7 linked regions of the Homo sapiens genome follow. The protein of the gene in region 2 purifies or fractionates together with the protein of the main gene of each other region. This does not show direct contact. Each region holds a gene or a part of one and is shown on either strand. Other genes may lie near its edges. The genes, in order: CALCOCO1, RABGGTB, INPP5A, PPP1R16A, NRAS, PRKACB and PXN.

Region 1 (3,500 bases), on a different chromosome or scaffold from region 2:
TAAAGAGGCTGCCTCCTGAGGGTGACCTCTTACATACCCTCATACATATCTTACAATCCCAGTGCTAAGAGTTTATGATTTGCATCTTTTTTTTCCAGGGCAGAGATTCCATAACATTCCTGGATCACCAGTTATAATGTTTCTTAATAGTAAGAACACAGTCTAATCTTATCTTTCCTGTGGCCACATCTGAAATCCATCCTCTCTTATCTTGCACTGACTTCCATCCATTCTCTTCTTCCAAATCCTCCACTCCTAGCTCTTGCTCAGCTTTTGCTGTACAATAAGTGGTAACTATGATTATTTCTGAAGTGGAGGAATACAGAATAGCATTTGGAAAGATGGTAGAGAGCTCGGCAGAAAAGGGTATCCCCAGTAACTAGCTTGAGTGAGGGTGAGAGGGAAAGAGAAAGCGTGTGAGGCAGACAGCAGGTCTGCTTGCCTGAGAGAGGGGGCTGGAGTGCGGGGGTCATGGAAGGGAGAGGAAGTGACGGGGTCAGTGGACTCCCCTCACCTGTCCAGCTCCACTTCCTTCGTCAGCACTTTCTCACTGATGGTCTGGATGTCATCCTCTAGCTCCAGGATGCGTGCCACATGGTCTCCCTGTTGCCGGCTCAGGATGTCCCTCTCTTCTGTGATCTCCCCATGGGACCGGGAAATCCCCTGAAATTAAGTTTCCCCCAGAAGAAAAGGGAGGTTGGGACTCATCTCTCAAGTGGTGGAACAAAGGCTTAGGAAGAGCACACCAGGGTCTGACTGCTTCCACCTGGCTATCACATTGCCTTCCTTGAAAAAGAAACTGTAAGGGAACATTCCCTTACCTATCAACGTGGCCACCTCCACCTTACCCCAGCATTCCTATGTTCAAAGAACTGAGTCTCATTACACGTTTGGAACATGTCTCTTGTCACATCAAGTTTAATCCCAGCCACTACCCCTTAAACCTATTTCCTTGATGCCAGAACCATTGTAAAAGCCCACTAACATCTCTCCTTCACCCTCTTCACTGGGTTCAGATTTTGGATGCTGGGTGAGCAGCCAGGCCCTGTCCCCTACCTGGCCCAGCTCCCACCTTGTACTGTTCCATCAGCTCCGTGTGCTCCTGCCTGGCAGTTGCCAGAGCCCTCTCGAGCTCCTGCACTCGGCTCCTCAGCTCTGTCACCTGTCCCTCCAGCTGTAGCTTCAGCTGCATCAGGTCATTCCGTTCTTGCTGGCTCTCATCGAGCTGGTTCTACAGGCAGCAGAAGGAGAAGGGGAGTGTGCTGGTGGAGTACCCCTTCTAAGGTCCCATCCTCACCACTCTCCAGGTGCATTTTGGGTTTGGGAAGTTACATAGCTTTGGGTTATAAAGAGGTGAGGAAGGGGATGCTCAGTGTGCTACCGAATCCCGTCCACCACCCAGTCAGATGCACCAGCTCATGGCACTCTGAATTGCCCATCTCTCTTACCCCTCCCCACTCTAGGCCTGGCCCTTTCCTCATCCAGCAATTGCAGGAATCCCTCATGTGGCACAAGTCAATGAACACAGACACAAGGGATGGGTCCCCTAATTTTACCCTATCTGCTCTGGAGTTGGACAGACTTGGGTTCAAATCTTCAGTGCAATTTTTACTAGCTATGTGATTTTTTTTAAAGATAGGGTCTCACTGTGTTGCCCAGGCTGGAGTGCAGTGGCTAGCCATAGGTGCAACCATAGCATACCATACCTCAAACTCCTGGCCTCAAGCCATCCTTCCACCTCAGTGTCTCCCCCAGTAGCTGGGACTACAGATGCATGCCACTACACCCAGCTAGCTATGTGATTTTGAACAAGCTTCTTAACTTCTCTAAGTCTCTGTGTCCTCATCTGTAACATGATCCCTTAGTCTGAATTGTTGTAAGGCTCAAATGAGAATCACGATTGTGAAACCGCAACAGAGAGTAGGAGCTCACACATCTTTCACTTACGTGAGATATAAACATCTTCCTGGGTGACAGAGCAAGGCTGTCTCAAAAAAAAAAAAAAAAAAGAAAAGAAAAGAAAAGAAAAACCCAAAAAACAAACAAAAAAACCCCAAACAGTATCATTTCAACATGTAGTCAAAATAAAAATTATTGAAGTCTTTTACATTCTCTTTAAAAAATACTAAGTCTTCAAAATCTGGAGTATATTTTACCCTTATAGTACATCTCAGTTTGGATTAATTGCATTTGAAGTGCTCAAGAGCCATATATAGTTAAGAGCCTTTGGTATTGGACAGTACAGGTCTGGGGCCTTGCCTATCTGCTCTCACTCCCCACTCGTCCTAGAAGCAGGTCCTGTGCTCCCCTTTCTCTGAATGTTCCCTGGAGTAGCCTCTCTCCACCCTTTGATCTTCCTCTAGGGCATAGGGCAGGATGCAGTGCATGGAGAAGGAAGGCTGCAAAAGTTCTTATGAAATCCTGAGTTACACTGGCCTGTGGGTGGTCTCCTTTCCTGCCTTACATGTTCGTGTATGTCTATGTTAGACTGAGACTCTCCTGGAGGCAGGACTTTGTCTAACTTTCAACGAGGTCTTTAGTTGGCGCCACAGATGAGGGGAGGGTAAGGTGGGAAGGGTCCTCTTGCAATGCTGTCTCCCACTCCCTTGTCTGGGAATAACTCTGTTGCTCTTTTCTCACCTGTAACACAGTTGCCTTGGGGACAACCAGCAGGATGTCAGAGCCCCCATCAGCCTCCTCCAGGGTCACCAGTTCATCCATGGGCCTTGGCTCTCGGAACTGGAAAGGGGGGCTCTGCCCACACACCTGGCCCTGGCGGTTCACATATCGGAACTGGTAGAGCTGAGCTCCTGGTTTGGGCAGGTAGCTGGCTGTGGGAAGAAGAATGGACCCAGGACCCCAATAATCCACTGTCCTTGGCCCCAGCCCCTTGCTCGGTGTTCCATATACTGTTTCTTCTCTTCTCCACCTCCCACAGGCCATACTCTTCTCCCTCCTTTCTGCCTGTCCCTCTCCTTCCTTTCTTTCCCAAACCCACTGCCCCTCTATCATAATCATAATAATGCTAGTTACCATGTAGTGAGTGCGTACCATGTACCAGACACTGTGGTAACACTTTTTATTTTATTTTATCTTGAGACAGAGTCTTGCTCCATCGCCCAGGCTGGAGTGCAGTGGCGCGATCTTGGCTTGTTGCAACCTCTGCCTCCCGGGTTCAAGAGATTCTCCTGCCTCAGCCTTGTGAGTAGCTGGGACTACAGGCATGCACCACCACGCCTGGCCTGCAGCTTTCATTTTAAATCCTCGTAATGTCCCTATAAGCCAGGCATCCCCTTTTACTGTTAAGATAACCGACACAGGGAGGTTATGTAATTTGCCCAAGGCCAAACAGCTTGTAAGTGTTAGAGGTGAGATTTGAACCCAGGTCTTTCCCTCTTCTCACCACATAATTCTACCTTTCCCTCTTCCTTACTCCCCCATTTTTCCTTCTTTGGGTAGGACAGGGGACTAGATGCCCTCTGAAGTTCCTTCTGTTTCTA
Region 2 (3,165 bases):
AGATTCTGGCATTTATTAAGTCTTGCCAACATGAATGTGGTGGAATAAGTGCTAGTATCGGACATGATCCTCATCTTTTATACACTCTTAGTGCTGTCCAGGTAAATACTAATCAAAATTGCAACGATCTTGATAGTATGTTCTCTTACTTCAGAGTTGGAAATTGAAACTGTATCAGGATTTGGTCAAAAAGTTTTGTTACAAGTGAAGCTGTCCTACAAGGTCAATGATGTAATGGCATGTATTAGCTGAATCTAAAGTTGATGTGAGTTCTAAAATTACACTGAGACCTTGGAGGGTAAAATTTTTATCTTCAGTATGTGTAAATACTGTAAAATAGCTAAATGGAGCTATTTGATTTTGATATTAGTGAACATCTACCTGGTGGTTTAAAGTCTTTCTGGTACTACTGGGTGCTGAGATGGGAAGATCAGGACTTTGTGTGGATGTGAGTTAGTATACTTGAGTATCTTGGAATGCCAAGTTAAAATTTATATGTAGAAAATTATACTTTAAAGATTTGAGTTTTCTTGATACTATCTAATTTTATTCAATAACAGGAGAGTCTGCATATTTGAGAAAAGGTTATATACACAGAGACAAAAGGATGTGCTTGACAACTTAAAAAGAGTTGAGCATAAGATCATTAGAATAAACCTGAAAGGGACATTTACCTAATACTTGTCTTTATTGCAGATTCTTACGCTGTATGACAGTATTAATGTTATTGACGTAAATAAAGTTGTGGAATATGTTAAAGGTCTACAGAAAGAAGATGGTTCTTTTGCTGGAGATATTTGGGGTAATGTCAGATTTAGTCCATTCTACCCAAAATACCAATATTAAAATGTACTGGTTTTGCTAGTAACCAGTTTATAAGTTTTTCATCTTTTCAGGTCCCACTAAGCAGCTGGTCTAACTGGAGTTAATGGTCTGCTGGAACTTCCAGCATGCACTGTGGTAGTTATATCAGCATATACAGGAGCACTGGAACAGAGGGGGCCAGTCTAAAAGATAAGGTAGGTGGAATTTTTTTCCCCAATATTTGGTGGCTTTGTAAAGTTTTTTAAAAACTACTTGCTGGAAAGGGAAAAATATTTAAAAAAAAAAACTTTACAAACTTGCTGAATATTTGAGTGGAGGGAGGGAATAGAATTTTATTTGATAAACGTAGATAATCTCTGCTTTAGGGATGAACACAGTGCAGGCCAGAGAGACCAGCTGCTTCATGGGATGTGAAAAATCTACTTTTATAAAGTAGGGTAAGTTTATTTCATTATTAGAAATGGACTAATACTTTGGGTTCTATTAGTTTTCTTCTCTTTGGTTTTCTTCTCTTTCTGGGCTTTCTTTAAGCAGCTTAAGATAATTTGCTGTTACTTTTTTGTGGCAGGGTCTTGGCTCTGTCCAGGTTGGAGTGCAGTATTTTGGGAGACAGTTGCTGGGGCTGGAGAGCTCTGTTGCCCAGGCTGGAGTGCAGTGGTGCAATCTTGGCTCACTGCAACCTCCACCTCCCAAGCTCAAGCAATTCTCCTGCCTCAGCTTACAGAGTAGCTGAGATGTGCACCACAACACCTGGCTGGTTTTTGTGTTTTTAGTAGAGATGGGGTCCCCTGGCCTCATGTGATCCTCCTGCCTCGGCCACCAAAAGTGCTGGGATTTCAGGCCTGAGCCACAATGCCCAGCCCCACCTAATTTTTTTTAAAAAGTTTTTTGTAGAGATGGGGTCCCATTATGTTGCCTCGGCTAGTCTCAAACTCCTAGGCTCAAGTGATTCTCCCACCTCAGCCTCCCAAAATGTTGGAATTATAGGCAAGAGCTACTGTGCCTGGTCAATTTGCTGTTATTTTTGACAAAGGAATTTTCTTGGGAAGTAAAGGCACTTCAGATTTAGCTTTCCTCCTGACTACCCTAAAGTGAAAGTTAAGCTTGAACTCAATTTAAAGTGGTAGTTGTGCAGTGTTTGTTTTTAGATGACTCATGTATGATTTGGTAACACCTGCCTTGATTTGATCTATTTTTATTGTAGGAGAAATTGACACAAGATTCTCTTTTTGTGCGGTGGCAACTTTGGCTTTGTTGGTAAGCTTTGAATATTTGATTGAAATGATTAAAGTTCATGAATACTCTGGAATTTTTTTTTTTTTTGAGTCTGATCTGCTGAATACTCTGGAATTTAACAGGCATCTTTTTTTTTGTTTGTAGGGGAAGCTTGATGCTATTAATGTGGAAAAGGCAATCGAATTTGTTTTATCCTGTATGAACTTTGACGGTGGATTTGGTTGCAGACCAGGTTCTGAATCCCATGCTGGGCAGGTAATTTATGAATACAGATGAAAATGTATTGTCATTTTGGAAGCCAGTGTAGTAAAATAAGAAAATTGGTTATTTCAGTGTTTGTCAAATACACATAAAGTTAATTCGACTGTAATAGGGCATCTTACATAAGAATTGCTTAATTGCTATCATTACTTTGCTTTATATACTATATACCTTTCTCTGTCGGTGGATTCGTCTGACCTAAGCAAACATAAGTGGGTTTATAAGCACCAAAACACTTTTGTTTTCCATTAATTTTTCACTAACCATACAGATAAAAAAAAAAACAACACATTTTTCTTTCTTTCCTAAGATAAATTATGAACCTCTTTTCTTGTGCCAGAGAACACTGAATATGTGAATGGATGGCTGTGAAATACTAGCCATGAAGAAATTTTGACAATAATATTTCAGTGCAGAATTGCATACTAGTAATAGTATGCTTGGATTTTTTCAGATATGTGGTATTAATACATGTTTGGAATTTTAAGTGTCAGATCAAGAAGAAAAACTTAAGATATAAAGTGGTGTTTTAATAATTTGAGTTTTATCACTTTTAATGTCAAGAAATTATTATACACATAAACTTTATGTCTGTAATTTTAGATCTATTGTTGCACAGGATTTCTGGCAATTACAAGTCAGTTGCATCAAGTAAATTCTGATTTACTTGGCTGGTGGCTTTGTGAACGACAATTACCCTCAGGCGGGCTCAATGGAAGGCCGGAGAAGGTATTGTTTGATAAGCCATATTCTGCTAGCTTTAGAACCTTGAGTGAATGCTGCTGCTTTGTCTTGCCTGTTTCTATATTGTAAATTGGCCATGAGCTTATTTATTACCTTTCC
Region 3 (3,500 bases), on a different chromosome or scaffold from region 2:
CGCCCAGTCTCACCGTGTTGGAAGCCAAGCTCGTCTGTGACCAGTGCTGGAGCCGGTCACAGTTCCGAGGAGGAAGGTGTTTGAATCTGAAGCAGATATCCCGGACTGTGGCGGACTCTGTTTTCCTTTTGTGCACAAGTGATAGGTGGTTTGCTTTTGCTTTTGCAGTTTTGAAAGTCTCCCCTCTTAAGGCCCCTCCTCCTCCCCCTCTTGTTTTTGTTTTAGACAGGGTCTCATTCTGTCGCCCAGGCTAGAGTGCTGTAGTGGTGCGGTCACAACTCACTGCAGCCTCGACCGCCCTGACTCAGGTGAACCTCAGCATCCTAAGTAGCTGGGACCACAGGCACATGCCACCATGCCTAGCTAATTTTTGTAGAGACCAGGTTTCGCCGTGTTGTCCGGGCTGGTCTGGAACTCCTGGGCCCAAGCAATCCACCTGCCTCGGCTTCCCAAAGTGCTGGGATTACAGGTGTGAGCCACTGTCCCTGGTCCAGAGGTCACCCCTCTCAAAACGCTGCGTGCATCCACTTCAGCTGTGGTTTGTAGCATCCTGGGATCCACACGGAATCTCACTCAGCAGCCCCTGTTTGCTCATCACTACTCCATCTTTGTGACCCCAGATTGGCCATGCTGCGGGCTGCGGGGCTGTCCCCACTGGGGTTGTGTCTGACCCTGTGCAGACAGTGTTGCGGTAAATGCCTTACAGTGTACCGGTCCCCAAGCCCTTATCCCTCACTTTCCTAGAAATTATGGAGGACCCGAAAGAGTTCTTGTTTATGTTGGTTATAACTACCAATATTTCTCATATTGGGAGCTGAGACTGCATGAGAATACATAGCTCACTGCACTAGCTGGCAGAGCGATTACATCATCCCACATCACAGGCACCCCCTCAGGTGTTGGCCGTTCTTCCCTAGGAGACAGTGAGAATGGAAAGAGGAGTCATTTTGTAGTATTATGGAAATAGTGTTGACCTAGTCAACCTGTGAAAAGGCCTCCTCAGCCCAGTCCTCCCTCCCCATACTGTCATGGGCACCCCTGTCTCTGGCCAGGTGGCTGGGGTGCCTGGGACTTTCCCAGGCTTATGCAGACTGCCAGATCACCCTCGGTGAGCCCTGCAGCTGGTCTTTAATTCCTGGATTGGACTCCTGCTGTCACTACTGGTTTGCTTGGAAAGAGGTGACCAGGGGTCCATATTTAATTGTTTTGCTTTGATGTGGCTGGTTTTTTGACAAGTGAGGTTTCTGGCTTTTGGTTCCTTCCATTTTTATGAGAAGGGAATTGAGGAGGTGAATTCTTGCCAGCTGTGGCGTCCCACCCTTGCATGGTCAGGCTGCTGTTTGGTCCTGAGAACACAGCCCGCTGGCGGGTATCTGCCTGGTGGCCCTTCCTGCTGCTTGTTCGCAGCTAAGTCAGTTCTGAGCCAGTTTGCCTTTTTGCTTAGTCAGCTCCCGGGCAGCCCTGTCCCTCTGCCCAGACCCGGGTTTGCAGAACGGCTGTGAGAGTGGGCTCGGCAAGTGCTCGCTGGCAGGGACCTGAGCACCTTGCAGTCAGCAGGTGTTGAAGAGCCCTGGAAGAGCGTGGAGGTGGCGGAGCTGCTGTGGGTATGGAGTCGGTGATGGTCAGTGGTGCAGGCTGGCGTCTCTCTCTGGTAGCATCAGCATTGCCTTCTTTGCCATGTGGTTCCTGGCAACACCAAAGGTACTGCCCTCTCTCCCACCTTGAAAACTCTGAACTCCATGTTTCCTCCAGCCACTGCGGGGCATCCTGACTCTCTACCGTGGCAGCCCTCGAGTGGGGTGGGGGGGTCTCCCCTCCATGTCCTTCTCCAGGCCTCTGCCCCAGCACTCCTGCACAGCAGGGCCCAGGGCTGGGTGCGGGTTGTACCCAGCTGGCAGTGACTAGCCAGAATTTTTGCTCCCTCTGTGGATCCTCCTTCTTCTTCAGGGACGTTTCACTTGGTAATGGCTGTGCTGGGACAGAATTCGCACACCATGCCCCTCACCCATTTCTTTTTCCTTTTCTTTTTTGTTTTCACACAGGGTCTCATTCTGTCACCCAGGCTGGAGTGCGGTGGCTCACTGTAGCCTTGAACTCCTGGGCTGAAGTGAGCTGAAGCCATCCTCCTGCCTCAGCCTTCTAAGTAGCTGGGACCACAGGTGCACGCTACCACACCCAGCTGATTTTTTTATTTTTATTTTTTGTAGAGATGGGGTCTTGCTGTGTTGCCCAGACTGGGCTCAAACTCCTGGGCTCAAGCAGTGCTCTCATCTCTGTCTCCCGGAGTGTTGGAATCACAGGTGTGGGCCCTCACACCCAGCCCTTTCTCCCATATGAGGTGTACAATTCACTGGTTTTCAGTATGTTCACAGGGTGTGCAGCTGTCACCACAGGCAATTGTAGAACATTTTTATCACCTCAAAAAGAAGCTGCATTAGCACCCAAGCCCCACGTCCCCCAGCCTCCCCACCCCCTGCAGTCAGTTTTCCTCTCTGTGGATTTGCCTGTCCCGGGCGTTTCACATACATGGGATCAGACGGTCTGCCCTTTGACCTGACTGCTTTCACTGAGCGTATGTAAAAGTGTCCATGCTGCAGCGTGCGTCAGTCCTGCATTTCTTCCTTTCTTTCTTTTTTCTTTTAAATTACAGAGACGGGGTCTTGCTGTTCACCCAGACTGGAATGCAATGGTGTGATCGCAGCTCACTGTAGCCTTGACCTCCTGGCTTCAAGTGATCCTCCTGCCTTAGCCTCCTGAATAACGGGGACTACAGGCATGCACCACTATGCCCAGCTAATTCTTTTTACTTTTTGAGAAGATGAGGTCTCACTATGCTGCCTAGGCTAGTCTCAAAGTCCTGGCTTCAAGTGATCCCCTGGCCTTGGCCTCCCAAAGTGCTGGGCTTACAGGCATGAGCCACAGTGCCAAGTCTCTTTATTCCTGTTTATGGCTGAATAATATTCCATTGTGTGGATACACCAAGTTTTGTTTCTGTGTTCATCAGCTGGTGGATGTTTGGCCTGTTCCCTCCTTCCGGTTCTGGTGAACAGTGGATGTTTGGCCTATTCCCACCTTTAAGTTCGGGTGAACAGTGGATGTTTGGGCTGTTCCCGCCTTCCGGTTCTGGTGAACAGTGCTGCTGTGTGCATCTTTGCAGGCGTCCCTAGGCGGACATGCGTTCTCAGTGCTGTTGGGTGTGCATAGTCTTGGCATTGCTGGGTGACGTGGTGAGTTCGTATTTAACCCTTGAGGGCCTGTCAGGCAGTCCATGGTGGCTGCCCCATGTCACATCCCTCCCAGGGTTCTGGTTTCTGCACCTCTCAGTGTTGGCGCCCCTGGGCTCAGGCTGGCCACCCTTCTCCCTTCCTGGGACCTCATCTAGACGCACAGCCATAAGTGCCATCTCTGTGTGGGTGCCCACTCCCAGCGAGAAGCGCACAACCAGGATGCTAGCCTGCAGTAGGTGGGGCCCTGCTCTGCCGCTCCGGCCAGAGCAGAGT
Region 4 (3,500 bases), on a different chromosome or scaffold from region 2:
CTGGCCAGTGTGTGCTTGCCCTGGCCTCTGCGGTCTACAGAGCTGGCCAGGCTTAGGAGCAGGCTGCTCGGAGGGAGAGTTACTGCCTGGAAAAGCTCTTTACTTGGCAGGCAGAAAGCCAGGTCAGGGCCACTGGCCTTATTGGCCGTGTCCTCAGGAAGCCTCTGAGGCTAGGCCTACAGGGGGGGACTATGTCTAGAGTAGGCTGAACCTGTAAAGTGGGGCTCCCAGATAAATTGGGGGCCCCTGAGCAGGAAGGACCTGACTGGCTTAATTTGACCTGGCCCAGGACAGTTCCCTTTCTGAAAGAAGGGGGCATTCTATGAAACACCTGGGTAGAAGTCCAGCAGTGAAGAGTTGGGTCAGTGTGTAGATGGCCATGAGGCCTGGCTGGGTGGAGAATAGGACTCCTGGCAGGCATCTTCTGCAGAGCACGGAGTGCCTTCTTTCTTTTCTTTCTTCCTTTCTTTCTTTCTCGGAGTCTCGCTCTGTCACCCAGGCTGGAGTGCAGTGGCGTGATCTTGGCTCATTGCAAGCTCTGCCTCCCTGGTTCACGCCATTCTCCTGCCTCAGCCTCCCGAGTAGCTGGGACTACAGGCACGTGCCACCACGCCCAGCTATTTTTTTTGTATTTTTAGCAGAGATGGGGTTTCACCCTGTTAGCTAGGATGGTCTCGATCTCCTGACCTCGTGATCCACCCGCCTTGGCCTCCCAAAGTGCTGGGATTACAGGCCTGAGCCACCGCGCCTGGCCAAGCACAGAGTGCCTTCTGAGGTGAGGCCTGTGGCCAGCCCAGCAACCACACTTAGTGTGTCGGGCAGGACTAGGGCCATAGCAGGTACATAGGCAGGGTTGTGCCCCAGCCGAAGCTGTCTGCCTGCCTGTCTGTCCCCATAGGCCTCAAGCCAGGCACCAGGTGGGGGCTTTTATTGCAGCCTAGGATGGCAGAGGCATTGTGGGAGCCCATCAAGGAAGAGGTCTAGAGACTGGGCAGTGAGAGGCTGGGGTATCAGTCAGGACAGGAGGAGGCGGGGCCTACCCTTGGAAGGCAGGAGAGGTGGAGGCCCAGGAGGCGGGGCCTGCCCTTGGAAGGCAGTAGCCTGCAAAGCCCTCAAGGCTGTTCCACGAGACCTCACCCTGCCCAGCCTTAGGGCAGCGCCTGGCCCTGGAGGAGCAGCCTAGCAGGGAACGCCTCGCTGGGGTGGGCGGCCCTTTCTGGAAAGGGTGGGTGGGAGGAGCCTGACATGCCTTTCCCCCGCCCCTCTCTGAACCTGGGGCAGAATGGGGGCAGAGTAGCTCCCCGTACCCCCAGGACTGTTGACCTGCAGTGCTCTCTGTGGACAAAGGGTGGGCCTCACACAGGGCAGGACCTGAGACAGCTGGAAGCCTGGTCTCACCTGAGGCCCAGGGCAGGGGCTCCCCCGGGCCACCCTGCCTCAAGCCGGCCTTGATATGCTTCCTTGTTCCCCACTTCTCAGGTGTGAGCAGCTGCTGGAAGAGGAGGTGCTCCTGAAGACACTGCGGCCGGCCCGCCTGTGCCCTTGGTGCCCTGGCTGCCTAGAGAGCCTCACCCCTGGGCCCTGGGGCCAGGACTCCAGGACTCTGACTACCTGCCCTCCCCCAGCCTCAGCGGCTGCACCTCCTCGTTAGTACTGATGCACTGACCTCGGCACACAGCTGGGAGGGGTTGGGGGCTGGGTCATGGCTGCTCCCAGGCCCCACCCAGGCTCCTGAGCCTAGAAGGTGAAAAGAGGACTCTCAGGGGCTCACAGGGGCTCTCACTGCTGGTTGGCCCTGCCCTCCCTTCCCCCTCAGCAGGGTGCCCGGAAGCTGGAACCTTGTTATCTGGGTAATTAGTTTCAGACCCTGCACTGAGGCCGGCCAGGTCTCGGGGCTGCCTCCCATAGGTTGTGCACCCTGACCCCGAGAGGGAGGCGAGGCGCTGCTTGTCGACAGCTAGAGGCTGGCCTGGGGAGCAGGTTTGGGGTGCCCTCCCACACTGCCCTCCCTGCCCCGGCCCATGCCCCCCAGGGCTGCCTGGGCCTGGTTATTGTGTGGGGCCTCCTGACCCAGCCAAGGGCACGAAGCTCTGGGAAGGGGATGCCCCCGAGGGTGCCAGTCCAGCTAGCTGCCCCACCCCTCAGGCCCAGCCTGGCCCCCAAGCTCCCCACTCTGGTGCCCCGAGCAGCCCTGTGGGCAAGCAGCCGCCGCCATGGCCGAGCACCTGGAGCTGCTGGCAGAGATGCCCATGGTGGGCAGGATGAGCACACAGGAGCGGCTGAAGCATGCCCAGAAGCGGCGCGCCCAGCAGGTGAAGATGTGGGCCCAGGCTGAGAAGGAGGCCCAGGGCAAGAAGGGTCCTGGGGAGCGTCCCCGGAAGGAGGCAGCCAGCCAAGGGCTCCTGAAGCAGGTCCTCTTCCCTCCCAGTGTTGTCCTTCTGGAGGCCGCTGCCCGAAATGACCTGGAAGAAGGTGAGTGTGGCTGAGCCCAGAGCAGCTCCCAGCAGACGGCCCACTCCCTGCTACCTGGGTGCCGTCTCATGCCAAGGCTGGGGGCTGGGCCTGTCCACAGCTCCTGGGCTCCAGCCCCCAGATCTTGCCTGGTCTCTTCAGGCTGGGTGGCCCAGGGTGCCCCCATCAGGCAAGCCCCAAGCAGTGGGCAGCCCTGAGGTGAGCCTGTGCGGGACAGCCGTCCTTCAGGCGGGGGCTGCATGCAGAGGGCTCCTGCTGTGAGGTGAGCTGAGGCCATGAGTGGACCCCCAGGAGCCTGCAGAAAAACCTAGTGCGGGGCCCCACGGGAGCAGGGGTGGCCGGTAGTCATTGCTGCTTCTTGTTAGGCTGCTCAGGAGAGCCCTGGTCTCCACCTCCGTGAAATAGGGTGGGACCAGCCACCTCTGTGGGTGAGAGAGCCAGGCCCTGGGCAGGCACAGAGCTATGCAGGTGGCCCCCTCTCAGTGCCTGCCCTAGGCTCTGCTTGTGACTCTCTTCTCCTCACCTGTGCCCCACGCTTGCAGCCCCAGCTGTGTGGGTTCCACTTCTGGTGCTCTGGAGTCTTGGGGGAAGAGGCACTGTGGTGGCCCTTGAGACTCCTTCCTGCCTCCCTCCGGAGCAGAGAGTAAAGAGGAGCCGGCAGTGTCTGGCCTGCATCTTTCCATGTGGACAGGAGCCCTCCCGGGAGGCCTGGAGGCAGAGGGAAGAGGCGGAGGGTGCCATGGTCCACAGGGAGCTGTGGGAAGGTGGGAGCCCTCCTGCTGCACCCCAGGCACCGTCAGGGAGAACCCTGGTGACCTGGGCGAGAGCTGGGCCCGAGTTGGGATCTTTGATGGGGAGGGGAGTGAGAGCAGGGATGTGCTCTGGTGGTGGGGAGCCTCAGGTCAGGTCCCAGAGGACCCAGGAGAGCTCATGAACACAGGGCTGGCAGGTTGTCAGGGAAGAGCCGAAGGAGCTGTGGTAGCCTCCAGGCAGGGAGCTCTTCCTGGGCTGGAGGGAGGTGTGGGATT
Region 5 (3,500 bases), about 39 Mb from region 2:
GATGATCTTTGTGTTCTGAATCTTTATGGGGAAATGAGGTTACCACACTAGGGAAGATAGAGCTTTTTAATTATGGGAAGAGTTGGTTTTAGGTTGTTTGACATTGAGAATCTAGGGTAATTACTGAAAGTTAATACTGGAATTTATTTTACATAATATACTGTTACTATAAAGTTTGATAATACATAAGTGAAGCTTGCTACTGGGAATGACTTGGAACCAGAGTTGTTGTAATTAGAGATCACGAAGGAATTTCAGAGAGGAAAACATCTCCAAGAAACATCTTTCAGTATGTAATGGAAAAGATAGGCCAGGCACAGTGGCTCACACCTGGAATGTCAGTGCTTTGGGAGGCCAAGGCGGGAGGATCACTTTCAGCCCAGGAGTTGGAGACCAGCCTGGGCAACAGAGCAAGACCCTGTCTCTACAAAAATAAAAATAAAAAAATTAGTCACACATGGTGGCAGCTACTCGGGAGGCAGAGGTGGGAGGATCACGTGAGCTCAGGAGGTCGAGGCATGCTCACTCCACTGCACTGCTGCACTCCAGCCTAATCAACAGAGCAAGATTCTGTCTCCAAAAAAAATAAAAAATAAAATGATAGGAGTAAGCAAATAGGAAGTCCATAAAGATGAAAACAAAGCAAGGGAACATAAAGATAGACTTTGTCCATAGAACCATAAAGTTTCAAAGCTAGATTGGACCATAAAAATTCTAGTACAATATTCTTATTTTGCAGAATCAGAAACAGAGTTCAGAATGTCGTTTGTTAGGTTTTGGAGTCAGGATTGTTATTAGTAGCAGAGCCAGGACCAAAAACCCAAAGCTCCTTTTTCTTAGCACAGTGTTCTTAAACAGAATAATATAATGGTTAAGAATGAGAACTCTGCCTGGATTGAAACCTAGCTCTGTTTATTAGCGACGTGACTCAGGGGCTATGTGGCTTTCCTAACCTATAATATGGAAATAATAATACCTACCTCATAGAGTTGTGAAGATTACAGTTTTAATAAATACGCAAATCACTCAGAATAGTGCCTGGCACACAGTAAATGCTACTTAAGTGTTCTGCCTAAAGGCTTGAGTCTTGGCTTATTTTCTATCCATGTGAAGATGTCTGCTCTCAAAAGCAGATTGGTCCAACACTGAATTCAAGTGTTCTTTTCCTAACCTGTTGTACTTCCCATTTTTTTTTTGTCTAAAAGTAATAGCAGTACTTAATAAAATGCCCACACTTGGCATGCATCTAATAAATGTTTTTTGAATTTCTAGAAGTCATTTTTCTTCTTTCTTACAAGAAATTTATTCATTTTTCTATATGCCTTAGCTCAAACCAAAGAGTATTTAAAACATCTTATGAAAATGCATATAGTAGAGCAAGATAAGATTAATGAAAAATAGGCTTAAGTGAGACCAAAAAAATAAGGGTAAAATAAACAAATTTAGGAGTGAGCATATTCTGTGATTGTGCATGAAGTTCCAGTGGCTTTCTAAAGGTGGACTACAAATTTGGTCACTGTTGTGAAAAGGAAAGTAGCCAGCTGAAAGATTCAGTATCTGTATGCTGAAAGCCGTTAAGTTGCTCGGACTAGAAGGAAATTTTCCCATGGATCCTCAAAGAGGCTTGTTTAATGTAAAAATCAGTAGTAACCTGACAGTGACATGGTCCAGGTACTTTAGGCTGTCTTATCCCTTAATGTAGGCTATTACCATCAAGCACAGTTTTGCAAATAGCCAGTGGAATGTAGTTCAGATACATGACTTTGTGGGTAATCCAGGGGTAGAGACTAAAACAGTACTGTGCAGTATGTGGTTATTTACAGTTAATTAAGATTAAATAAAATTTAAAAATTAGTTCCTTGACTACCAAATGCTCAATAGCCACTAGTAGGTACCATGTTGAACAGTACAGATATAGACCATTTCCATCATCACATAAAGTACTGTTGGATTGTGTTGGTCAAGACAATCTAAAGCAATTGTTTCCCAGGTGTGCTGTGTGGTGTGCCTTACATGTCATTGAAAGGGGTGCTGTCAGGAGTTCTAGATGCTTCAGCCTCCCTTTACTAAGAGCAGTTCTTATGTTTTCTATTTTATCGCTTGGGCTTCCAGATACAATGTTTTGTTTTAGGTTTGTTTTTTTTGTTTGTTTGTTTTTTTTTTTTTGAGACGGAGTTTTGCTCTGGTTGCCCAAGCTGGATGGAGTACGGTGGTGCGATCGCGGCTCACTGCAACCTCCGCCTCCCGGGTTCGAGAGATTCTCCTGCCTCAGCTTCCCGAGTAGCTGGAATTACAGGCGTCCACCACCATGCCTGACTAATTTTTTTTGTATTTTTAGTAGACTTGGGGTTTCACCATGTTGGCCGGGCTGGTTTCAAACTCCTGACCTCAGGTGATCCACCCGCCTCGGCCTCCCAGAGGGCTGGGATTACAGGTGTGAACCACCGTGCCCGGCCTGTTTTAGTTTTTTAGAGATGGAGTCTCCCTCTGTTGCCCAAGCCAGAGTGCGGTGGCATGACACTCTCAGGGTTCAACCTCTCAGGGATCAAGGGATCCTCCCACCTCAGCTTCCTGAGTAGCTGGAACCACAGGCACATGTGCCACCATGCCCAGCTAATTTTTGTATTTTTTGTAGAAGCAAGGTTTCACCATGTTGCCCAGGCTGGTCTCGGACTCCTAGGTCAAGTGATCCTCCCACCTCAATCTCCTAGAGTGCTAAGACTATAGGCGGGAGTCACCATGCCCAGCTTCATCTACAATTTATTTGAAGAAAATGTTTGAGCACCACCCATCTTGAAAAGTGATAGACTGCCTTCCATTAAATACTGTCACACCTAGTTATTTAGCAGCAGTGAGCTTCACTTTTTATACTTTAGACCTTAATCTAAAGGGTGATTTCTAGTTGCCAGTTAAATCCAGAGCCAAGCTCTTTGGAGAATCCAGGAGCCTCACTAGGTCATGTATCAGGATAAAATACCCATCCACTCCCATTAGAAGGTGAGCTTGTACTTATGGCTTCCTGATGGCTGCTGCAACAAGTCTAAAGCAGTCTCCTTAGTATACAATGTCTTCTCTAAGTGGTAGAAAAAAGCAAAAATACTACAAGTTAATAGGGCTACATAAAATTTGCTAGTTTCTTTTTTGCCCTAGCCATTTATTCCTTCCTGAAATCTTGTCTCTCTCTCGCTCTCTCTTTCTCTCGCTCTCACTTTCTTTCTCTTTTTCTTTTCTCTTTTCTTTTCTTTCTTCCCTTTCTTTTCTTTCTTTTTTCCTGTTGCCCAGGCTGGAGTGCAGTGGAACAATTATGGCTCACTGCAGCCTTGACCTTTCTGGACCCAGGTGATCCTCCCACCTCAGTCTCCCAATTAGCTGGGACTACAGGCATGCGCCACCACACCCAGCTATAATATATATTGTATATATATTTTTTATTTATAAATATATATAAATATATATTTATATGTGTAAATTATATATATTTATATATTATAAATTATATA
Region 6 (3,500 bases), 8.4 Mb from region 2:
GCTCGCACACGGTGCGTGCACCCACTGACCTGCGCCCACTGTCTGGCACTCCCTAGTGAGATGAACCTGGTACCTCAGATGGAAATGCAGAAATCACCCGTCTTCTGTGTCCCTCACGCTGGGAGCTGTAGACCGTACCTGTTCCTATTCGGCCATCTTGGCTTCTCCTCTTATCCCAGAAATTTCTTAAGTATTTTGTTGACCTGCATACTTCCTTGAATCAAAATGTTGAGGTTAATAGCTAACCTACTGCTTGCTGCTTCTTCTAGCACTATTATATTTTAGGAACCTAATGGCATCTAAGGATTTCACCGTGTAATAACAGTGGGAATTTATTTTTCTTGGTGTTTGGAAACTCTCAGGAATTTTTTTTTCCTTTTTCTTATTTTTCTCTCCCTCTCAATTATAGGTTGAAGCTCCATTCATACCAAAGTTTAGAGGCTCTGGAGATACCAGCAACTTTGATGACTATGAAGAAGAAGATATCCGTGTCTCTATAACAGAAAAATGTGCAAAAGAATTTGGTGAATTTTAAAGAGGAACAAGATGACATCTGAGCTCACACTCAGTGTTTGCACTCTGTTGAGAGATAAGGTAGAGCTGAGACCGTCCTTGTTGAAGCAGTTACCTAGTTCCTTCATTCCAACGACTGAGTGAGGTCTTTATTGCCATCATCCCGTGTGCGCACTCTGCATCCACCTATGTAACAAGGCACCGCTAAGCAAGCATTGTCTGTGCCATAACACAGTACTAGACCACTTTCTTACTTCTCTTTGGGTTGTCTTTCTCCTCTCCTATATCCATTTCTTCCTTTTCCAATTTCATTGGTTTTCTCTAAACAGTGCTCCATTTTATTTTGTTGGTGTTTCAGATGGGCAGTGTTATGGCTACGTGATATTTGAAGGGAAGGATAAGTGTTGCTTTCAGTAGTTATTGCCAATATTGTTGTTGGTCAATGGCTTGAAGATAAACTTTCTAATAATTATTATTTCTTTGAGTAGCTCAGACTTGGTTTTGCCAAAACTCTTGGTAATTTTTGAAGATAGACTGTCTTATCACCAAGGAAATTTATACAAATTAAGACTAACTTTCTTGGAATTCACTATTCTGGCAATAAATTTTGGTAGACTAATACAGTACAGCTAGACCCAGAAATTTGGAAGGCTGTAGATCAGAGGTTCTAGTTCCCTTTCCCTCCTTTTATATCCTCCTCTCCTTGAGTAATGAAGTGACCAGCCTGTGTAGTGTGACAAACGTGTCTCATTCAGCAGGAAAAACTAATGATATGGATCATCACCCAGATTCTCTCACTTGGTACCAGCATTTCTGTAGGTATTAGAGAAGAGTTCTAAGTTTTCTAAACCTTAACTGTTCCTTAAGGATTTTAGCCAGTATTTTAATAGAACATGATTAATGAAAGTGACAAATTTTAAATTTTCTCTAATAGTCCTCATCATAAACTTTTTAAAGGAAAATAAGCAAACTAAAAAGAACATTGGTTTAGATAAATACTTATACTTTGCAAAGTCAAAAATGGCTTGATTTTTGGAAACAATATAGAGGTATTCATATTTAAATGAGGGTTTACATTTGTTTTGTTTTGTAACCGTTAAAAAGAAGTTGTTTCCAGCTAATTATTGTGGTGTACTATATTTGTGAGCCTAGGGTAGGGGCACTGCTGCAACTTCTGCTTTCATCCCATGCCTCATCAATGAGGAAAGGGAACAAAGTGTATAAAACTGCCACAATTGTATTTTAATTTTGAGGTATGATATTTTCAGATATTTCATAATTTCTAACCTCTGTTCTCTCAGTAAACAGAATGTCTGATCGATCATGCAGATACAATGTTGGTATTTGAGAGGTTAGTTTTTTTCCTACACTTTTTTTTGCCAACTGACTTAACAACATTGCTGTCAGGTGGAAATTTCAAGCACTTTTGCACATTTAGTTCAGTGTTTGTTGAGAATCCATGGCTTAACCCACTTGTTTTGCTATTTTTTTCTTTGCTTTTAATTTTCCCCATCTGATTTTATCTCTGCGTTTCAGTGACCTACCTTAAAACAACACACGAGAAGAGTTAAACTGGGTTCATTTTAATGATCAATTTACCTGCATATAAAATTTATTTTTAATCAAGCTGATCTTAATGTATATAATCATTCTATTTGCTTTATTATCGGTGCAGGTAGGTCATTAACACCACTTCTTTTCATCTGTACCACACCCTGGTGAAACCTTTGAAGACATAAAAAAAACCTGTCTGAGATGTTCTTTCTACCAATCTATATGTCTTTCGGTTATCAAGTGTTTCTGCATGGTAATGTCATGTAAATGCTGATATTGATTTCACTGGTCCATCTATATTTAAAACGTGCAAGAAAAAAATAAAATACTCTGCTCTAGCAAGTTTTGTGTAACAAAGGCATATCGTCATGTTAATAAATTTAAAACATCATTCGTATAAAATATTTTAATTTTCTTGTATTTCATTTAGACCCAAGAACATGCTGACCAATGTGTTCTATATGTAAACTACAAATTCTATGGTAGCTTTGTTGTATATTATTGTAAAATTATTTTAATAAGTCATGGGGATGACAATTTGATTATTACAATTTAGTTTTCAGTAATCAAAAAGATTTCTATGAATTCTAAAAAATATTTTTTTCTATGAAATTACTAGTGCCCAGCTGTAGAATCTACCTTAGGTAGATGATCCCTAGACATACGTTGGTTTTGAGGGCTATTCAGCCATTCCATTTTACTCTCTATTTAAAGGCCGTGAGCAAGCTTGTCATGAGCAAATATGTCAAGGGAGTCAATTTCTGACCAATCAAGTACACTAAATTAGAATATTTTTAAAGTATGTAACATTCCCAGTTTCAGCCACAATTTAGCCAAGAATAAGATAAAAACTTGAATAAGAAGTAAGTAGCATAAATCAGTATTTAACCTAAAATTACATATTTGAAACAGAAGATATTATGTTATGCTCAGTAAATAATTAAGAGATGGCATTGTGTAAGAAGGAGCCCTAGACTGAAAGTCAAGACATCTGAATTTCAGGCTGGAAAACTATCAGTATGATCTCAGCCTCAGTTCTCTTGTCTGTAAAATGGAAGAACTGGATTAGGCAGTTTGTAAGATTCCTCCTAACTTTCACAGTCGATGACAAGATTGTCTTTTTATCTGATATTTTGAAGGGTATATTGCTTTGAAGTAAGTCTCAATAAGGCAATATATTTTAGGGCATCTTTCTTCTTATCTCTGACAGTGTTCTTAAAATTATTTGAATATCATAAGAGCCTTGGTGTCTGTCCTAATTCCTTTCTCACTCACCGATGCTGAATACCCAGTTGAATCAAACTGTCAACCTACCAAAAACGATATTGTGGCTTATGGGTATTGCTGTCTCATTCTTGGTATATTCTTGTGTTAACTGCCCATTGGCCTGAAAATACTCATTGTAAGCCTGAAAAAAAAAATCTTTCCCACTG
Region 7 (3,784 bases), on a different chromosome or scaffold from region 2:
AATTGGGGGAGCAGGCAGGGGATCTCCTTCCTCCAGTCCAGTAGGTCCTGGGCCAGGGTTTGTACTGAGGCTGGGACAAACCAGGAGCAAGGTAGACATGTCCCCCAGTCCAGCCCTGTGCAGCGGCCCTGGGCCATTCCTATTTGGGAGGAGAGTGTGTGAGAACTAAATGAGATAATGCAAGTATTTAGCAGACTCAACAGAAATGGGCAGTGGTTTCCAAAACCACTGCATTCTGGGGGCCCCACAGGGGTTATTAATGATTCAACAAGGGCTCTCTGACCAAATGAGTTTGGGAAACACTGTTCCCTGCAGGACTTCTCAGAGCCTTTTCTTTTCTTTTCTTTTTTTGAGACGGAGTCTCACTCTGTTGCCCAGACTGGTGTGCAGTGGCACGATCTTGGCTGACTGCAACCTCTGCCTGCTGAGTTCCAGTGATTCTCCCGCCTCAGCCTCCCAAGTAGCTGAGATTACAGGCACACGCCCCCATGCCTGGCTAATTTTTTGTATTTTCAGTAGAGACGGGGTTTCACCATGTTGGCCAAGCTGGTCTTGAACTCCTGACCTCAGGTGATCCGCCTCCCTTGGCCTCCCAAAGTGCTGGGATTACAAGTGTGAGCCACCTCACCCGGCCCCTCTCAGAGCCTTTTCTACCTATATGTGATGTGAATCTCCAATGAGAATCTAGGAGGCAGAGTTTGACTACAGACCAGTGTCACACCTGTGTTTCTGGGAACACTGTTACAGCCACCTGGCTAAGTGCTCAGGAGTCAGACCTGTGTATGAATCCAGGCTGTGACCTCAGTAGCTGCATGACCCTGGGCAAGTTACTTCACCTGTGTGCTTCAGTTGCCTCCCCTGTTGGGAGAACTAAATAATCCCAGCCCTGTGGGAGGCCGAGGTGGGAGGATTGCAGGAGGCCACATTTGACCAGCATGGGCAATATAGTGAGACCCCCATCTCTACAAAAAAAATTTATTTAATAAAATAAAAATGAAAAATGAGCGTTTAGGACAACACGGCACATGGGAAACGCCTAGCAAGTAGGAGTCACTCCGAGCGTGCCGACTATGCCCACCTCGGCCCCATCACACAGGGTGCAGCTCTAGCCCGAGGGGCAGCTCCCTGAGCCCCTCTCTCCGCCTGGCAGGAATGCTTCACGCCATTCGTGAACGGCAGCTTCTTCGAGCACGACGGGCAGCCCTACTGTGAGGTGCACTACCACGAGCGGCGCGGCTCGCTGTGTTCTGGCTGCCAGAAGCCCATCACCGGCCGCTGCATCACCGCCATGGCCAAGAAGTTCCACCCCGAGCACTTCGTCTGTGCCTTCTGCCTCAAGCAGCTCAACAAGGGCACCTTCAAGGAGCAGAACGACAAGCCTTACTGTCAGAACTGCTTCCTCAAGCTCTTCTGCTAGGTGCCCTGCCCCTGTCTCTGCCCCCCTTCCCCAGCCAGCATCCCCAACTGCGACTGTGACCTAGAGACTTCACCCGGGGGTGAAGGGGTAAACCCGACTGAAACTGGAACCCTTGTCCTCCGCTGGTGCGGGATGGACAGAGGGCCGTGAGGGGTCCCCCTGCTTGTCTTCACCCCTGCCAGAGCCTCTGGGCCCCCTCCTCCCTCCTGTAGCTCTCCCTAGGCTGCCCACTCTCCATCCTCCCCAGGGGTAGAGGCTGGGGGCTCCACCCCAGCCCATGTACGTCCCCACGAACTGGCCTGGCCAGCACCCCACACTGGAGCCATCTCTTCCTCATATTTCAGCAGTGCAGCCGGGGGGCAGGGAAGGGCAGGCAGGGTCTGTTGGGGTCTCTTTTTATCCTTATTCCTCCCCCGACCTAATTGTCTTTGTTCTGTGATTATTGGGGGACACCCGGCTCCCTCCAGACAATGCCAGCATAAATCCATCCATCCAAAGGCAGAGAACCAAAGGGGCCATGGAAGGTTCTCTGTGCTCCTCCTACCCTTCCAGTGCCCTAGGCCTGGCGACTGCCCCTGCCTTTTAGACCCGCCCTCCCCTTTTATACCTGCTCTTGTTCTACTGAGAAAAGCCTCTCCAGCAATAATGTTTTCTAGTCACTTCCTCCGTCTCCGGGACGGCGTGCCTGGACACTGTACCGACTTTGATAGATTTCTACACTGAGGTTTGAATTCATATCGCCTGAGTTGCTTTTACTTCTCTATACAAAATGATTTTGAAGAGATTTTAAAGACGTTCCCTTTTGTATTCTCTTCCTCATCCACCGCCACTGGGCCTGTCACTGATGGTGGCTCTGGTGTGAAGTTTGCTTTGTACTGAGGGTTGGGGTGGGGAAGCAATTTGTATTTTATTGTTTCTTAGCACAAGCAGGTGAACTGGGAGCAGCTCTGTGACTCCCCCTCTTTCACTTCATAGCTCACCAGGACTGTTTTATAAACTGCTGTATTTGGAAACCCCTTCTTTACTTCCCAGGCCAGCAAGCTCTTCACTGAAACTGGTTGAAGGGTGTTGCACCCTTTTGGGCCTAGAATTCTGAACTTTATCTGTTCTGTTTCTGTGGGAGGAGAAGGGGAAGTATGTTTTGGGGGGCTGCTTCCTGTCTGAGTAAGCCCTCAGGAGCCTCTGCTCCCCTGTGAACCCACTGAACCTTCTGAGCCCCCACTGCTTCTATGGGGCTCTCTCTTCTGCCTTCTCAGGAAAGCTGGTGTCTGATTTTGGCCATCAGGACTCTGACGTCTCTTTGGTCTTGTTGATTTCCTCTGGGCATATCCCTTCCCCAGATCTGCTCCTCCCCTTTCACAGGTGGGATCGGCACTCAGGGGGTCTGGAAAGAAGGTCATAAGGGAGCATGATAGGATTTGGGGCAGAGGGACAGGCTCCTCTGGGGAAACCCCCCAGAGCTCTTTACCAAGGATGAAAGAGGAGCCAGGCCTTGGGCTCCTGATGAGGAGAAAGGGGCCCCACCGGGGTCTAATGGTGACAGTCCAAACCACTCCACTGGCCTCCTGGCAGAAGCCGAGTGTGCTGGGGTCTCCGAAGAGGGTCCCTCCTTTTTGGGGGAAGGTCAGCCCAGCCCCTCCAAAGGTCTGATGTCTCCACTTTCACCCGCAGGCCTTACCGCTCTGTTTATAGTGACCCACCCTAGATCTTCCCCAAGAGGGACTGGGGTTTCTGGGGTCCATTCTCTGAGTCAGTGGTTATTTGAAAATTTGATTTTGATTTTATTTTTTCTCTGTAAACTTCCAAGCTGGCTTTTCCCATTTCAATTCCTGTGATTTATGCCAATAAAGTTTGCCCATGATTTTCACCTGTGCTAGTGCTATTTCTTGGTGGTCTGAACCTCATGGTCCCAGCAGAGACCAAACCCACCCCAGATGCAGCTGGATCACCAGATGGAGGGTAAATTGTGGATGTTTCCTTTCTTGAGGTCAAAATCCCTGGGGCTGGGGTCCGTGGTCCTTGCCTGTGGTCACAGGTCCTCCCCGTGGGCTTTGCTCCTGCCTGGGCAGTTGGTGAGGACAGGCTGGGGAGCAGCGGGATGGGGCCCTGTGGGGCAGGGCCTGCCCAGGGTGTGATCACCTGGGTTTACCAAGGGCATCCTCACTCACGGGCTTGTGGGTGGCTTTCCACTCATTTAGAAGTAGGGAAAGAGGCTCTAGGACAAGAACCTACATGTACAAGGCAATCTGAGTGAGGGCAGAGCCATGATGCGGACCCAGGGCTTGCCTCTGCCTGTGTTCCTGCACAGAACCAGACGCGGCCGTGCCTGAGCCCACACAACGTGGGTTAGCCCCTTCCCTGCCGAAG

The links.
Region 1: the proteins of RABGGTB (region 2) and CALCOCO1 purify together in Homo sapiens (affinity purification with mass spectrometry; 3 studies listed by BioGRID and IntAct, with this or other methods). This does not show direct contact.
Region 3: the proteins of RABGGTB (region 2) and INPP5A purify together in Homo sapiens (affinity purification with mass spectrometry; 4 studies listed by BioGRID and IntAct, with this or other methods). This does not show direct contact.
Region 4: the proteins of RABGGTB (region 2) and PPP1R16A purify together in Homo sapiens (affinity purification with mass spectrometry; 3 studies listed by BioGRID and IntAct, with this or other methods). This does not show direct contact.
Region 5: the proteins of RABGGTB (region 2) and NRAS purify together in Homo sapiens (affinity purification with mass spectrometry; 3 studies listed by BioGRID and IntAct, with this or other methods). This does not show direct contact.
Region 6: the proteins of RABGGTB (region 2) and PRKACB purify together in Homo sapiens (affinity purification with mass spectrometry; 3 studies listed by BioGRID and IntAct, with this or other methods). This does not show direct contact.
Region 7: the proteins of RABGGTB (region 2) and PXN purify together in Homo sapiens (affinity purification with mass spectrometry; 4 studies listed by BioGRID and IntAct, with this or other methods). This does not show direct contact.

What each region holds. Positions count from the first base shown.
Region 1 is NC_000012.12:53,720,953-53,724,452, forward strand, and holds part of CALCOCO1 (calcium-binding and coiled-coil domain-containing protein 1), read right to left. Parts: intron 2,832-3,500; coding exon 2,641-2,831; intron 1,232-2,640; coding exon 1,073-1,231; intron 664-1,072; coding exon 515-663; intron 1-514. UniProt on the Homo sapiens protein: Functions as a coactivator for aryl hydrocarbon and nuclear receptors (NR). Recruited to promoters through its contact with the N-terminal basic helix-loop-helix-Per-Arnt-Sim (PAS) domain of transcription factors or coactivators, such as NCOA2.
Region 2 is NC_000001.11:75,789,256-75,792,420, forward strand, and holds part of RABGGTB (geranylgeranyl transferase type-2 subunit beta), read left to right. Parts: coding exon 1-101; intron 102-221; exon of another isoform or gene 222-292; intron 293-696; coding exon 697-802; intron 803-896; exon of another isoform or gene 897-1,019; intron 1,020-1,190; exon of another isoform or gene 1,191-1,262; intron 1,263-2,029; coding exon 2,030-2,082; intron 2,083-2,205; coding exon 2,206-2,316; intron 2,317-2,925; coding exon 2,926-3,051; intron 3,052-3,165. UniProt on the Homo sapiens protein: Catalyzes the transfer of a geranylgeranyl moiety from geranylgeranyl diphosphate to both cysteines of Rab proteins with the C-terminal sequence -XXCC, -XCXC and -CCXX, such as RAB1A, RAB3A, RAB5A and RAB7A.
Region 3 is NC_000010.11:132,540,787-132,544,286, forward strand, and holds part of INPP5A (inositol polyphosphate-5-phosphatase A), read left to right. Parts: intron 1-3,500. UniProt on the Homo sapiens protein: Phosphatase that specifically hydrolyzes the 5-phosphate of inositol 1,4,5-trisphosphate to inositol 1,4-bisphosphate, and inositol 1,3,4,5-tetrasphosphate to inositol 1,3,4-trisphosphate. Plays a crucial role in the survival of cerebellar Purkinje cells.
Region 4 is NC_000008.11:144,494,982-144,498,481, forward strand, and holds part of PPP1R16A (protein phosphatase 1 regulatory subunit 16A), read left to right. Parts: exon of another isoform or gene 1-1,479; 5' UTR 1,480-2,213; coding exon 2,214-2,472; intron 2,473-2,995; exon of another isoform or gene 2,996-3,014; coding exon of another isoform or gene 3,015-3,236; exon of another isoform or gene 3,237-3,500. UniProt on the Homo sapiens protein: Inhibits protein phosphatase 1 activity toward phosphorylase, myosin light chain and myosin substrates.
Region 5 is NC_000001.11:114,710,272-114,713,771, reverse strand, and holds part of NRAS (GTPase NRas), read left to right. Parts: intron 1-3,500. UniProt on the Homo sapiens protein: Ras proteins bind GDP/GTP and possess intrinsic GTPase activity.
Region 6 is NC_000001.11:84,234,771-84,238,270, forward strand, and holds part of PRKACB (cAMP-dependent protein kinase catalytic subunit beta), read left to right. Parts: intron 1-409; coding exon 410-535; 3' UTR 536-3,500. UniProt on the Homo sapiens protein: Mediates cAMP-dependent signaling triggered by receptor binding to GPCRs.
Region 7 is NC_000012.12:120,209,947-120,213,730, reverse strand, and holds the end of PXN (paxillin), read left to right. Parts: intron 1-902; exon of another isoform or gene 903-1,096; coding exon of another isoform or gene 1,097-1,129; exon of another isoform or gene 1,130-1,150; coding exon 1,151-1,417; 3' UTR 1,418-3,284; downstream 3,285-3,784. UniProt on the Homo sapiens protein: Cytoskeletal protein involved in actin-membrane attachment at sites of cell adhesion to the extracellular matrix (focal adhesion). Recruits other proteins such as TRIM15 to focal adhesion.